Linked DNA regions of Homo sapiens: region 2 is linked to region 1. The links come from fine-mapping of genetic effects on gene expression. Tissue or cell type: lymphoblastoid cells. Region 1 holds a variant in brackets; the other region holds the start of a gene. All regions are shown on one strand. Distances are between the middles of the regions.

Region 1 (8,107 bases):
TAATGTCAAATTTCCAACTGAAGAAATAATTATTGACTAAGTTATGAATGAATATAGCACATTACTAGAGAATTAACTATGTGTGCATTTATTGTCAGGCAACCATGTAGGATTGAAAAACACAGAGTACACCAGGAGACCCAGGTTCTAACCATGGCCTGGCCACTAAGTAGCTAGGTGAGTTTAGGAAAATCCTGGAACCTCTCTAGGCCTGGCTTGCTTTATCTGGAAATTAGGTATTTGACTAGATGATATAGAAAGTGCTTTTGGCTCTCAGAGGCCATTGAAGTATGGGCCACTGTGGCTCTTCGACCCCATTGAAGTGTGGAGTAAGGCTAACTATTGTTGGACAGCAGAAATACAGTAAAAACATAGAACATTAGATTAACTGAAGCCGATGGGGACCTTCCTCTCACAGGCCATTATTTTTTCCCAAGCAAGATTGAGGAGTCTCACAGCTACAGTTGAAAACTGGACTTTTCTCAATTAGCAGATGTAGTTAATGGGCAGAATTTCTTCAAAGTTTTCCTCTTCTCTATTTCTCTAAAACCAATGGCTGTGATAGCTGACAATAAAATGAAATGAACAAGTATAAAATAAATATTTATGAGGGCAATTTGCAAATAGTTGACCATGCTTAATTGGATAGCCTTTTTCTTTTTTTTCTTTTCTCTTCTTTTCTTTTTTAATGAGCTCTGTGCTCCCAGTTTTGATTCCATACAGGATCATCTATTAAGGTAATATTTTCTAAGTCTAAAATTGTTACTATTCCACAAGGTCTAATTAAATTTGCCACTATTTTTATAGTGCTCAACAAAGAATATGGCATTCAAGGAAAAGCCTTTGACTTCTGATCACTCCTTCACATTTATTACATGAGTAAATCTGAGAACCACTGATCTAGCTTTACAGAAGAAAAAAACAATGAGGCCCAAAGAGGGAAAGTGAGCTGGCCAAGGTGACACAAATGGTTAATGTGAACAGGACCATGAACCCAAGGGCACCAGGCTTCTTGGCCAGAGTCCTCTGAAACTGAAATAGTCCCACGCACCTGGAAGAAGAATGGTTTAAACAATTTCTGCAAGTTACTAATGAACAAGGGAACCATTTCTCAAGTAGGAATTGAATTGCTTAATTCATCTGAAATTAACTTTGATGATACCCCTGCAAAAATACTTTATGAAAAATTATTTTGTTCATTGTGGGAGCTATTGAGAGGGCAGATCTTTTGGTGGAATTTTCCAGTTTCATAGATGATTTCACTTTGAATGATTTCAACACTGAACAAAAATCATGGTGGAGAGGCTGCTGGAAATTGAGTAATAATTAAAGGCAGATTAGCTACGTGAGAATTGCCTTATCATAAGGTTCTGTAAATGTTGCTGTAAGTTATGTGATTTGCTGGAAAGATGACAGAGAGATGGGAGCCCCTGGGAATGGATTACAACTCTGATTAATGAAATAATGCATGTGTTCCTCTCATCAGGGGAGGCCAACGCTTCTCAAAGTGTAGTCTAGAGATACATAGAGGTCCCCATAAAACCTCCAGGGGCCCCAAAGTCAAAATTATTTTGTAATGAAAGAGATTATTTGCCTTCATCCTTCTCATTCTCCCATGAGTGTACAGAACTTTACAAAGGGTGCTTAACGTGTGTCATCACAACTGGCTGAATGCACAAGCAGATAACACGATTCCAGCTGCCTTCTTTTAAGCCTGTATCACAGAGATTTACAAAAATGTAAAACAATGCCACTCTTCTCACTGGTTTTCCTGTGGAAAAATATAGTTACTTTTCATGAACAATGTTATTTACGCTAATGTGCAATGGGTTTACTCTTGTTACTTTTAAATAAATTAACGAATGAATAAATGTTTAAAATGCTTTTCCAGTTTTAATATCAAATACTACAAATGTCAATATTTAAAATCCACATAAACAAGGCTCTTTGGGGTCCTTAATAATTTTAAGGGTGTAAGCAGCCTGAGACAAAAACGTTGAGAATCACTGTGTTAGGCATTTGTGACACAATGGTGAATGCAGCACTCAACAGTGCCCTCGTGGAGCTGGCTTGAGTTCACAACCTAGGGAGTAAATAGGCAGTCAACTGGGAATGGAAATAGCCTATAGGGGAAGGACAGAGTTCTGTGGGAGCACAGGGTGATCCTCTTGAATTGGAAGGATTGTTTCAGTGAAAGAAATGAAGAAGGCATTCCTTAATCATTGCTTTAGACTTCATCTCTTCCATCTCTTAAACATTCAGCCCCTGCCTTTTAATTTTATTCTCCCCCATCAACATTAATTTATTTATTTTAGTTTAGTTTAATTTAACTTAATTTTATTTTTTGAGACAAAGTCTGGCTCTATTGCCTGCTGGAGTGCAGTGGCACGATCTTGGTTCACTGCAACCTTGACCATCCCAGGCTCCAGAAATCCTCCCATCTCAGCCTCCTGAGTAGCTGGGACTACAGATGTGTGCCACTATGCCGGGCTAATTTTTGTACTTTTTGTAGAGATGGGATTTCACCATGTTTCCCAGGCTGGTCTCAAACTCCTGAGCTCTAGTGATCTGTCTGTCTCCCGCCTCCCAAAGTGCTGGGATTACAGGTATGAGCCACCATGCTTGGCTTACCAACAACATTTAAAACTACACAAGCTCCTTCCACTAATAAAGAAGGCCAAAACCCCAAACTTCGTCCCCAGTTCCCCTCCATCTACTGCCCTTTCCATTGCCTCTCCCTCAGCAAAATTTGCAAAGATTTTGCAAAATTCTTTTTGCATCACAGACTTCATTTCTTTCCTTCTCTATCTTCAACACACTCCTACTGCTTTTGTGAAGATTAACAGCGACATCTGCATCAGTATTTTCAGTTCTCATCCCACTTGGTCTCTCAACACTTGCTGTATTTGACCAATCTCCTTCTATTTTCTTGAGATGAAGTCTTACTCTGTTGCCCAGGCTGGAGTGCAGTGGCGCGATCTTGGCTCACTGCAAACTCCACCTCCTGGGTTCAAGTGATTCTCCTGCCTCAGCCTCCCCAGTAGCTGGGACTATGGGACTACAGGCATGCACCACCATGCCCAGCTAATTTTTTGTATTTTTAGTAGAGAGGGGTTTCACCATGTTGGCCAGGCTGGTCTCGAACTCCTGACCTGAGGTGACCCACCCGCCTTGGCCTCCCAAAGTGCTGGGATTACAGGTCTGAGCCACTGCGCCCGGACCTGACAAATCTCCTTCTTAAACACACTCTTCCACTGCTTCCGGAATACCCCAGTCTTCTGAATCTTGCACCCCCTTGCCACCCTCTCACTCTCAGTCCCTTGGGTCTACTTATTCTAATACCCATTCGTGAGCCTTTGAAATTCCACCGGCTTAGACCCAGGGTCTCTTCTCAACTACACCCTCATCAGTACTCCTGGTTTTGATCTCAATGATCAAATGTAAATTTATACAACCCACCTTGACCTCTCCTCTGAGCTTTCAACTACCTACTTGATACTCCCCTTTGGATTTCTTAAAAGGATCTTAAACTGGTATGTGAAAATCCAGATTCCTGATCTGTCCCCTGAAAGGTGGTTCTACTCCAGAATCCATAACTCAGCCTCTTACTATGTAAATGCTAAGTCTAGGAGTCACTCCTGACCCTCCTTCTTGTCACCCTTTCCTGGGCCACTGTGGTAACCATCTGTTACCCTGCATTCACTTGTGTTCCTCCCAATCTTTTCTCCATACAACAGCCAGAGGGATCTTTCACAGTAGTAAATATGATATGACTTTCCCCCATTCAAAGTCCTTTAATGGCTCCCCCTTACCTGTGCAAAAAATTCCTGCCCATCCAATCTGAATTAAAGTCCCACCTCCTGGCCTCCACCTTCCTTTCCAGCCTCCTACTATGGGGTGAATGTGGGTGTCATAGTCAACTCTCTAACATGACATGTCCTTATCATTTGGAATTGCTTGATTTCTTTTTAATTCCCACATTCTGCAAAGCCACAGACCAATGCACATGACTTTTACTTTGCCTAGAATTCCCTCTCCATGTCCCATTTATTCTCCTTCGTCACATCTTGATAACATGTGTTTATAATTGAAGTTTATCTCCAGCTTAACTCTTTGTGAAGCCTCCCTGAATGCTCACCGTGTCCTAACTCTTGCTCTCCGCTATACTCCCAGAGCCTGGGTCGCAAGTCCCATGTATAACCCTCTTCATGTTCTGCTGCTGGTGGTTACTGACAGGTCTGTCTGTCTCCTCATTGGCCTGTGAGCTCCTTAGGGGCAACTGGTTTGTCATTCCTGTATCCCAAGTGGCCAGCTCAGTGCCTGGCACTTGGAAGTCTCCTAAAAGAAGTTTGTGAAACAAATACGGGTGAGTCCAAGGAATGCCTGAGGGAAATATTCAGAAAATAAAAGAAAAGGGGGCAGTTAAATGCTGTCAATCTGTGCGGAGCTGCTCTGGGAGACAGGAAGGCTGTTACCGC[A/C]CTTACCTACTCATCACGCGCATCCTGGCTTTTCCTTCTGGCTTCATAAAGGTGCTTGTGTGGCAGAATGGACTGTGCGAAGGTCCTGCCCTGGACCAGAGGGAGAGGAGTTCCATGAGGTGAAATATAAGGGAAAAGGTGCGTCCACCTGGGGCCAAGTCTGGGATGAAAAATGCTTTTCATAGGTTCCTGAGGGTGACAGTTGTACAAAGGCCTCCTTGGGGGCAGAAGGTGGCAAAGGCACAGCTGCAGATGGGCTGATGAGACTGTTTATTCCCTCGCAGTTGGCATAAAAGCAGAAGTAAATCAAAAGAAAGAACATAACCGTTAGTTCAGATGGAAATAGCAAGTTCCTGGGTTGGGTCTACAGGCTGACATTCTTCTTTCTTATACGATTTGGTACAAATCATAAGGGAAAAAATTAATGTTTCAATTTTTCAGTAAAAACAAAGTCAAAGTTTGATGAGTGTCATGATTGTTAACAGCCTACTGTTGAGTTTCTCCTCTCTGGTGGGCCTGGACTGGGTACTGGGGACACAGGGTGCTGAGAGACAGCCCAGCCCTGCAATTGCATTCTGGCTGGAGAAGGCCGGGGGTGGGAGGAGCGGAAGGAAACTGGCAGCTGTTAAGTAGCTGCTCTGTACTGGCAGCTGGAGACAGATGAACTGCAAGGAGGGGTGGCAGGAGCTGAGCATCAAGGAGTGGTACAAACACAAGCTCCCCAGGAAGCCAGGGAGTAAAGGGCTGCAGAGGCTCCTCCGGGGGAGCTTGTTCTTACTTACTTTTCTATTGGTGTCAGAAGCATCCAGCGTTGCTTCAAGGAGGCCATTCCTGGTATTGCCCTTAGACCCTGGGTCACTGGGTCCTGTGGCCCTCTCTCACCATTCCCATCCCTCAGGAGCAAGGGAGGGAGGAGGGAGAGGACAGGGAATGGAACCAGCACAGAATCAGATGGGAAGCTGTTCCCTGGGTGTAGAAAGAAGTCAAGCAGATCCTCTTGGCGACACAGGGGAGGCTAGTAGGAGACTGGGGAGAGGCAGACAGGACTGTGGAAAGTCTTCAAAGCAGGCCTCAGATTTGAGACAGAATTCTGGGGCCTGGGAGAGTTACTCTGAGTTTCTGAACCAATATTTCTAGAAGATGAATTTGACTGTGGTATGTAGTAGTTCCCAATTCCAGGCCTGCTGACTGGTCGCATCCATGACCTGGGGAGGTTTGTAAAAGTTCAGAGCTTGTCCTGGGCCATACTACAGGTGGTTCTAATCCAGTAAAATGGAGGGGAATCTCAGGCAAAAACATCTTGAAGAAGCTTCCTAAGCAATTCTGGGAAATTTGAGACCCTGCTATGAGTTAGGTTGCATGGGAGGTGTTGGAAGGAAGGTGACCGTATAGAGAATCTGTTGTAATAATTGCAGTGTAATTGAAGATGGTCTGGACTCAGGGAGTGCAAGTGCAGAGGACAAGGGACAGATGAGCCTGCAGACCGCTACATGAGCCCAGCATCAAGCCTTGGCTCTAGGGGAGAAAAAGCAAAAGGGTACCAATAGCATTAATATGGAAGTCAGGAGAGAGTTGTTTAGTGGAGTAAGGTGAGGGTTACGATGAACTCAGAACCAGGTATGTAAGGGAAGGGTCAGAAAAGAGAGCAGAAGTAGAAATGGATTCAGAAAACATATGGAGATGTCACCTGGAGTCTCAGGAATGGATGAGTCATTAGGTGAAGAAAGTGCATGCAGATAATTTAGCTACAAAGGAAACAGGGAGGATGAATGCAGAGAGCGAGTGGGAATGAAAGCAGCTGCATCTATGGGAAGGGCTGTCTCATAGATGAGGGACAGGTCTACCCAGGGTTAGCCCATATGTGGAAGTGGCAGGACAGCAGATCTCAGCTTAAAGTAAGAAATGGCTTCTAACAGATCTGCCGAGAACCTCCCAAGCCAGCTCTGACTGTCAGCTGGTACAGTTTACCAGTTCTATTGGGACTTCAGCATGATTAGTTGATGCGTTGCAGGGAGGTGAAGTAGGGAAAATAATAGCTGAAGAATGAGTAATGTTTAAATTAAGTACCATACTAGGTTTTTTTGTAATGTCATTTTTTATGCCTCTGAGAGATGAGGCCCCCATCCTGGAGTTTGTTCTTATTTACATTTCTATTGGTGTCAGAGGCATCAAATGTTGCTTCCAGGAGCCCATTCCCAGTATTGCCCTTTGGCCCTAGGTTGCTGGGCCCCCTGTCACCATGCCCATCTCCAAGGAGCAAGGAGACCCCAGGGTTAAGGGACATTCCACCAACAGCCTGTACCCCATCGCTGAGCCACAGGCTGTTGGCACTCATGGCCTCAGAATTTCCTTCCCAAAAGGCCCGAAATCTACTTCCACAGCCCACGTGGGCCTCTGCTGCAGTCTCTCCTCCCAGAGAGGACAGATACCCATCTAGAAGCTCACCCCTAGGCCTGAGCTGTGGCCAAGGGGCAGCTGTTTGGGGAATGGATGGAGCTTGGACAGGTGAGTTGGGTGTTCAATCTGTGATGCCAGCAATGTGGAACAGAACTGGGGTGGGAAGAGAAGAGAATGAGATGTCTTCTCCTTATATTCTTGCTTTGCGCTTGCAAATGCTGGGGGGAGGCCTGACCCTCCTGTAACTCCAGGCCGTGATATTTGATGTCCACTGGGTAAACAGTCTATACCAGTCTTTAAAGTCCCCCCTACCCTTTCAAATATAACTAGGAATCAAGCAAATTTGGATTCTAGAGGGAATTGTATTTCTGCTGTAATTACTGTACCATCCATAGGAATTTCTTTTTGTTTAAACTTTTTTTGCATATGATTATAAAATTAATGCATGTTCATGTAAAAACATCATGTAGAATTGCTGAAAAATCTACAGAAGGGAATAAAATTACTTCATATGAAGTAGAGATAACCACTATCAATGTTATGTGTATTTCCGTCCACTCTTTATAATTGCTCTGTATATATGAGATTATACTATGCTTATACATTTTTTCTATAAATCTGGTATCAGAGTGCTCAATTTTTAAATTTTTTCACTTCAAACCATTTTTATTTTCAAATTCTTTAAATATTGCACAAAAGAGATTTTCCAAGATAGTATAAATTCCAATCACATGGTTATGCCATGAAATACTTAAGCAATCCCCTATTGTTGGACATTTAGTTTATCTCTAATTTTTTTGTAATTATAAGTAACATTGTGACAAATATCTATGTATATAATAAATATTTGACTTACCTTCAATTACTCCCCTAGAGTAGATTCCTGGTGGTGAAATTGCTGGGTCAAAGAATGTATACACAGAAATTTTAAATTTCTTGGACATTTTCTAATTTCTACAGCTTTTGTGAGCCATCTCTTGCCAAAGTTGGCTCTAAGGACAATTCTGAACATCAGTTACCAGGAAAAACTGGCATTCAATAAGCAATTATTATGTGCAGTCACTGTACTTGGAACTTTCAGCACCTCATTTATGTCTATGATTTAGCCTTCCCAACAATTTCCTTGAAATATTATCCCAGTTATACCAAGGAGGAAATTAAACTGGAGCTGGAAAGTTACAGAGCTAGGATTCAAGCTAGGTTCCATCTTGCCAAGGCTGGTGTCACCATGC
Region 2 (8,107 bases), 120 kb before region 1:
AGAAAATTAGCTGGGCATGGTGGCACATGCCTGTAATCCCAGCTACTCGGGAGGCTGAGGCACGAGAATCGCTTGAACCCGGGAGGCAAAGGCTGCAGTGAGCTGAGACTGAGCCACTGCACCCCCAGCCTGGGACACAGAGTGAGGCTCTGTCTCAAAAAACAACCCAAACAAACAAGCAAAATTACTCCAAATCTGTGGCGGAATTAGGATTTAACATTCCTCTTTCTAACCCTATTTTTTTCTTTTCCACAAAGTACATTATTACTCATACCTTTTTTACTTCATCTTCAAAACCTTTCTCCAGGTATTTGTAGCGCCTGATTAACTTGTTAAAAACCTATGAAGAACATTAAATGAATTCAGTAACTTCATATATTTCTAGAATAGCAAAGTAGTAAACCTTTCACTCGATGTAAGTTTATGAGCTGCTTAAACCAGCTTGAGAAGAATTCCTAGTGACACATAAGAATGTCCAGGTTAGATGTACTTTAATTCTTTGCTTACAGTAACACAAACATAACTACGTATGAAACTTTCCAATGAGATCTTGATTAACAAGCTAATCAGCTCACAACTCATTTAACTTTAAAAATAAATGTATGCAGATAAACTAGAGAAATCACAATACGAAACTGACTTTTCCAGCTTGACATTTTTCTTAAAAATTGAGTAATTTCAGGACAAATAGGAACAGAAGAGTTAATTTCATTTTTCCCTATTTTGTTCGCCTTAACACACCTTAAGTTTCTAATTCATCCCGTTGCACCAAGAACAGTATCCCTAAAATTTAAAATCAAATTCCTTCAACTTTCTAACCACAACTCTTAAAAGTAGAATATTCCTCAAATATACCACATGGATAGTAGCCAACTGAAAACAATTATGTAAAGTTTCATTTACCTGAGCAAATGCTTGCATGGTCTCTAGATCTTCTTGGGCTGCAAACACGCAGACATCTGTACGCATCATGTCATCTGCCAGTGTACCACCTGGGGCTAAAGTTGGATAAAACCAAAATACAACAAAACCAAAAAAATCACTCCATTTTAACAAGTTTGCCAAATAGTTCATATTCTAGACTCTCCATAATCTCCATATATTATACCTTTCTAAATTATTAAGCCCACAAACCACAGACACTTACCCAGCATTCCACCAGCCACCAGAATGTCAAAGAGTGTTTCTGCATATCGACGGTAATCAAGTTTTGCTCCAGAAGCATCAAGAAACTTAGCTACTGCTTCCAAATCAGTACCGGTTTCAGTTAAGCCTTGAATAATACAGTCTTGAAACTGAGTAGGGTCAAACCTCTCTTTTTCATCTGGGGGGACAAGGGACCCAAAACATTTAGTTTTAAAAGATTTACCAAAATGCCACAAAACTATCACCTTATGAAGATGCAATTGTTAAATAAGTTAGATTAAATTCACATCCTTTGCATGTTTCCCCTCTGCAAGTGTAAGACAAGATGGCCCACTCACAAGAATTGTGCAACTTTTCAAATAATTTCACAAGTGATCTAAATGTGCTAGTGTCTTGTGTTCCTACTGCCATAAGCCAATTTCTACTGGGAACGCCCTCCTACTGCCTCTTGGCTTTTCCAAAATTTAGGCCATCCTCTAACAGGTACATTTTATTCCTTTGGGTTTTGTCCAGACACTGGAGCTCTTGATCCTTTTCCTTAAATGTCCATAATATTAAACAAACAAAAAAATTGAACCAATCCTTTGGCATTTATGAAGGTGAGCTTTAGAAAGTACATTTAATGAGCACCCAATGACAGAAACTATATTAAGCATTTGCTTTAATCCTGTTAACAACCTTGTGAGGCAGATTTTTCCCCCTATTATTCAGAAGGAAAACTGAGAGTCAGAGAAATTAGGTAATCAAGAGACTATATTGTGTAGTAGTTCAGTACATGGGCTCTGGAGTTAAACTGCCTGATTCAAATCCTGACCACCATTTAACCACCTGAATTCAAGCAAATAGTCTCACTCGCCATGCCAGAATTCCCCTACTGTAAAATGGGGATAAGAATAGTACCTATCCCATAAAGTTGTTGTAAATACCAAATGACATTAATAAAATAGAAAGCTCCCAGACCACAGCCTTGTGCACATACCTGACCTTTACTGAGTTGCTTTCACACACTTCATAATAGGGTTTTGCTTTCCCAATCTAGGCTAGATGACATCTGTTCACACAGTACTAGGGTGACAAACACCTCTGAGTGCCCAGCACTTTCCTGGTTTTAGCACTGAAAGTCTTGTGTCTGGAAACTCCCTCAGTCCCAGACAGGGAGTGTTGTATACCCTACCCAGTACCCTAACCATCAACAGCCAGGCCACGAATCATCTCTATCTGGAACCGGGGAAGTTACATCTCTCCCTGATGCTAATAATAAGAATGCTAAAGCTACTTGCTATTATTTGTATCAAGGTAACATCAGTAACCCACATATTCAAGAGATACACTTTCCCATTTTACTGCCAAACTGTTCTAGTTTACAACTCCAGCTCCTTAAGAAAATTTACCAGCTAAATCTAAATGAATCTGCAAAGATTAGAATCAAATCACACTTTGGTCTCCCCACCACTACTACAAGGGGACAGACAGCCTATGATTAGTGATTTTAAAATTCTACAATATATATCTCAAAATGTCTGCTACTTAAGGAAGAAAAAGAAAAACACAACTTATAACCAGTAGCTGACCTAGTTCTTCATTTCCTCAAAACCACCTGTAAAACAAGGTTAATATGCTTTTGACCAAAAACAGTAAAAATATATCTGAGACTACGTCTTATTTAGCTTTATATCACTAGCACAGCACTTTGCTACAGAATTCAATACTCACCTAAGTACACACTAATGCAAAAAAAAAATAGTAATATAATTCTAATACTTTTTCTACTAAGTCTGTATTTCAAAAGACATTACAATGTGAATCCTGTTCCACAATTAACTTCCATGGGTGAAGTCTGAGTTTTCTCTCACAAATCTTCACAAAATCTGGGTGACTACATTAGGAGTTCTCCTTTTATAAATTAACATTTTTGCTCATTTAAGTTTGCTTAAATGAGACTGCCTGCTAGTGAAAACAGAGCCCTTATTTTTATTTTTAAAAATATTTTACCTTCACACCGAAAAGAAGATTCACTAACCGGCTTAGAGATATATTGATACTAAAAATTAAGGCTTGAGCAGTAAAGCAGTAGAAATATTAAAGGTGTATGTGAAATGGCAGTCAACGAGAAATTCAAGTTTCTTTCTGGTATCTTCTTTTGAGGCTTTAGTAATATGCAAGTACCTGTCAGAGAAGGCAAGATACACAAGATGTTCTGGAGGTTTGAAGAGAGACATTAAAACGTAAATATTTACCTCTTTTTCTAGTTTTAAAACGCTGGCCTGATAGCGTTGGCTTTTGCTGCTTTTGATTATTCATAAAAGACACCCTAGGAAAGGAGAAATAAAGCCTTAATATCAGTGCCATAATACTAATTTTTAAAGCAAAACATCAAACCTTAGTCTAGTCACATATGAATCAAATGGAACACCCACTCTCAGGATATAAAGCTGGCAATTATACCCGATACAGGCACAAAGAATTACCTGCACTTGAATCAAATGTACGTCAAAATGTGCATTTCTCTCTACAAGAAACCCTTCAAATTAGTGCTGTGAACTACTTTTAAGCGACATTGTAGTGCTACAGTGATCACCCGTCATAAACCTAATTGTTCAGTTTTCTCCACATTCCTCTTTACATTCACTTACATCTTCCACGACCACTAAGCATCGCAGAACGCAAAGAGAGATTATCACCATAGTCAGCAGGCATCCAAAATGTGTATGCCAATTCTAAAACACTGTCAAAAGGTGAACCCCTTCTTCTGACAAGCCTGGTTACGGGCAGCACCATCCTACCCTAGGTCATGCCTGTGACCGCAACAGCGGCCGCCTTGCACCACTCAGGCCTGCAAAACTAACAGCCAGCCCAGCCTCCTTCGCCCATATCCCACAGTCCTAGCCTCCTCCCCGGTAACGTGTCTCCCAATCCACACCCTTCCCATGCCTCCCGCCCGAGCCACAGATCACCCGCTTCCCGCCCAGGACCCCATCGGCCACAGCGGGGCGCCGTAGGGTCCCGCGGCTCTTTCTCCACTGACCCTGTCGCCTGCGGTGGCGGCCGCCGCAACGAGCGGACCACAGTCACTGAGGCGCTTTGCGCCGGGGCCCCAGGCGCCCCGTACATCCGCCCGCCCTCCAGCGAAAGCAGCGGCGGAGGCGGCGGCCGCAGCGGTGGTGGGTGGCAGCCCCTCCGCCCCGCCCGCCGGAAGCCCCCACGCGTACATCACACAACAGAGGCCGCGGCGGCTTTGTTAGCCAGGCCGGGCACGGCCCAGAGGGAGCCCGCCTCGGCCACTGCCTTCGCAGCCAGCGCCGCGGCGCACACCCGGACCCCACCTCCCCACCCGGGCCGCCGCTACCCCTCGGCCTCCCTGCCGAAGCGGCGGCCTTTCAGGCCCTAGATCCGGCCCGGCCTCAAGAGGCGACCTCCGTTCGGGCCCATCCAAGCCGGGCCGCATCCAGCCCGCCGCCTCCCTCTCCCTCTGCCCGGCGTCCACGACCCGCAGCGTCCGCCCGGGGTGAGCGGGGCGCCGCGTCTCACCGAATTTAAGGCGAAGAGGAAAGAGCCAGAAATCCCCGATGTACCGGCAACTGCGGCGGTGTCTCCTCTGCGACCGGAACTAACGCCAGGAGGAGGGAGAGGTGCCACCCCCGCCCGGACCGCTCTCCTATCGCGAGATTTCTTCCCCTTGCCCCGCCCTGATCGTGGACAGGCGCTTCCGCCTTTTCTATTGCGCGCGGATTAGGGTGAGGGACTGGGATAGGGGAGGGGAGAGACGTTTCCAGTCTTCTTTATTCCCTTACTGGGTTCCACGTCGCCTGGACACTTGTCCTAGACTAGCTTATTTTTCTTCCCCCGCTGCGTCGTCCGCCCTCTTCACACATGGAGGGGTTGGAAGAGCGGAGCCGGCCCCCGCCGGTCTCGAAGTTGGACGCGTCCTCCTGGAGTCCCTCGCCGCCGGCCCCCTCCTCCAGCACCGGAAGTCGAAGCCCGAGGGCGGGGGGCCCTCGGGTCGTGCGGGGGCGGAGGCTGGGGGCGGGCATGGGGGCGTGGTTTGGGGAAGGAATCCGCACCTCGCCTCCGCCCTGGCCGGGATGGGCGGAGTTCGCTCCAGCTGAGTCCCCTGCCTGGCGACTTTTCTCTGAGGGGCTGTCTCATTGTTCACTACCTCCCTTAAGAGCGAAGAGGACACAGGCCGAAGATTGAGAAGGGGAAATTCTGTCCTCCAACCGCGGTCCCTGCGCGCTGCAGCGGTTGTCTCCCGAGTGTGGTGGCTATGGGGACTTGGAGAGCATCAGAATCCCTTGGAGGACTTGTTATAACAGACTGCTGGGCCCCACCCGTAGTTTCTCATTCTGTAGGCCTGGTGTGGAACCCATGAATGTGCATTTCCAACAAGTTATCTGTGATGCTGCTGCTGGTCCGCACCTTGAGAACCCCTCAGTTAGAGGCTATATCATCAGGGAGCTGGGGTACGATCAGATTAGATAGTGCGTGTGAAAAGCACTGTGGACGTGACAAAACTCTGTGCAGATAAAGATGCACAGCGCCTCTAGGATGTAGCCCCATGTTTTTATTCACTGTACAGTAGTTTACTTCTCTCCAGTTGCTTCCTCACTCTCTGGTAGGAGGAGAGTGGCTTCTCTTCCCTAAACCTTTTGATAAAATAGTTTGTTGACTTCTTTTCCCTAATTAACTATCTGACCTCTACCCCACCCCCCCGCAACTTCATGGAAAAATGACTTTCTCAGCGTTCGTTCCTGAAATTATTGCCAAACCCAGTGTTTTATTCTTCACCCTGTTTGCCTCCTCTGAGCATTGAATGTTACCTACCTCTCTCCTTGAATCCTGGCTCCAGCTATCCTGGTTACGTTCTGAATGTGCCTTTGCACGGTATTTTCTGACTCTTCTTTTCTGTACTGATACCTTTTCTTTCTGGATACTTTCTTCTATGGCAGTCTCATACATTCTCAAGGATTTAACATTTACTCCACTTAAAAGAGTTCCAAGATCATCTACTGAATCATTAAGCAAATATTTGTTAAATCCAGGCTCTATGCCCTTCCAAGTTGAGGCAACAGCAGTGGGAAGGAGGCAGGAAACAAACTGCATCTGTTGGAGGAACTGCAAGAAGCTAGTGTGATTGGGAGGGCTGTGGGGAGCAGAGGGAAGTGGCTGGAGTCTGATCTCTAAGTGTCTAGCCCCTTCCTTTCTCCCAAGGCCCCAGTCCACACTATCTGGCATCTTCACTTCATGGCTAATTTAACACTGTCAGTGCTGTCAATTGCTCTTCCCCCAGAACTGTATTTTTCACATCTGAAGTTCTGTTAAAGGACAACGTTTCACAAATAAAAATGATAACTAATATGTCCCTATATGTATCAGGCCCTCTTCTATGCACTTTATGTAGTAACCCCATTTCATCCTGAAAACTACCCTGTAATCTAGACACTATTATTAGTCCCATTTTACAGATGGAAAAGCCGAGGCATCGAGGTCAGGTAACTTGTCTAAGATCATAGCGCTAGTAAGTGGAAGAGGTCCAGTTGAACCCAAGCAGTCTGGCTTCACCATTATAATGCACCGCCTTACCACCAAGATCTTATTTATTCATTCAACAAATATTTATTCAGCTAGAGACCAGTAGAGATAGTGACATGTTACGCCTATGGCCTCACAAAGCTTATCTTCTATTTTTGCCACGTTTTAAAATTGTATCATCTTTCCCCAGTACCATCTTGATTTAGGCATCTATTACCCCTAACTAAATGGGACTTTTGCAATAACTTCCTAACTGTACTATCCCCTTTCTCAACATTTCCAGAGCAATCTTCTCAACTGCAAGCTGAATCATTTCTCTTCACTGTTTAAATGCCTCTGTTTATACTCAGGGATAGCTCTGACCAATGTTTTTCACCTTTACTTCCCATCACATTTGTGGTTCTTAACCTGTTATTACCATCATTGTGGGGTATGTAGCAAATGATTTTTGACTAAAAATGATATTAAAGTAAGCAGATTATTTTCTTTAAAATGTAAAGTGGATTAAAGGTTTTCCTGAACTCCTGGCCTCAAATAATCCTCCCACCTTGGCCTCCTGAAGTGTTGGGATTACAGACCACACCTTGCCACTTATCTTTTCTCTGCTTTTGGGTGCACCCATGGGAATAGGCACCGTGCAGCTAGCAGGGGAAACGTTGTTTGTGAATTGTATTATGGTAGGAAAAGGTTCCAAACAATTGAACTCTATGCTTTGGTCAGACAGGACACATCTTGTCTTGACCTTTCTTGAGATGTCCTTCCCTCATTTTCCACTGTCAAAATCCCACTATTGTTTCAAGCCTTATCTCAACTACTGCTTTTTTCCCATAAGCCTTTCTTAGTCATGGATGTGAACACATTCCTTCTTTGTAATTGGGCTACAGGCATGAGCCACTGAGTCTGCTAATTTTTTTTTTTTTTTTTTGGTGATGATGGGGTTTTGCTTTGTGGCCCAGGCTGGTCTCAAACTCCTGGCCTTAGGTGAGCCTCCCGCCTCAGCCTCCCAAAGTGCTGAGATTATAGGTGTGAATCATCACGCCTAGCCTTGCCCAGTTTTATGGTTGTTTTGGGAAAAAGGATATGCTGATTTCTTCACTCTGCCATTGCTGTGAATCCCCCTTAGTACTTTTGGATTTAAAAATTTTGAACTACTTAAAAAGAAAGGTGCTAAGTGCAACATGTGAATGTGCTACTGCTTTTAACTTCATTGATGGGAATGGATACCTAAGTGTTTCTTTTTTAAAAGCAAGTGACAATAGGTTTTTATTCCTAACAACTAGAAGAATATCAAGGGCCTGTTTTGAAAAGCACATTGTTGCCCTTGGAAAATGAGCTGGGGGAAGTATTTATTCCTATGCTTTGAGTCTTGTAGAAGCTTATAGAACATCCTATGAACCTGGCTTAAATATTGTAGCATATGTATATGAAATAC

Alleles and levels. Positions count from the first base shown, and alleles are read on the strand shown. Sizes are in standard deviations (SD) of each study's normalised expression.
With allele C in place of A in region 1, the expression in lymphoblastoid cells of the gene that starts at base 4,755 in region 2 is higher (small effect, 0.24 SD a copy in TwinsUK).

What was found. PIP is the estimated chance that this variant, and not a neighbour inherited with it, causes the effect.
Region 2: BZW1 starts here. The variant in region 1 is fine-mapped to the expression of BZW1 in lymphoblastoid cells (TwinsUK, PIP 0.95).

What each region holds. Positions count from the first base shown.
Region 1 is chr2:200,692,389-200,700,495 of GRCh38, reverse strand. It overlaps the pseudogene AOX3P-AOX2P and the pseudogene AOX3P. Among named protein-coding and RNA genes, the nearest start is that of LINC01792, 39 kb to the left of the region's middle. The variant A/C (reference allele first, on the strand shown) is at 4,479.
Region 2 is chr2:200,808,558-200,816,664 of GRCh38, reverse strand. It overlaps BZW1 (basic leucine zipper and W2 domains 1), which reads right to left and starts at 4,755. Exons shown (of 12, transcript NM_001207067.2): 1 at 4,675-4,755; 2 at 3,384-3,457; 3 at 1,148-1,324; 4 at 904-998; 5 at 275-340. The coding sequence starts at 3,447. It overlaps BZW1-AS1 (BZW1 antisense RNA 1), which reads left to right and starts at 4,495. Exons shown (of 4, transcript NR_110275.1): 1 at 4,495-4,880. RefSeq lists enhancers at 3,402-3,917, 3,918-4,433, 5,282-5,541 and silencers at 4,182-4,551, 5,082-5,231.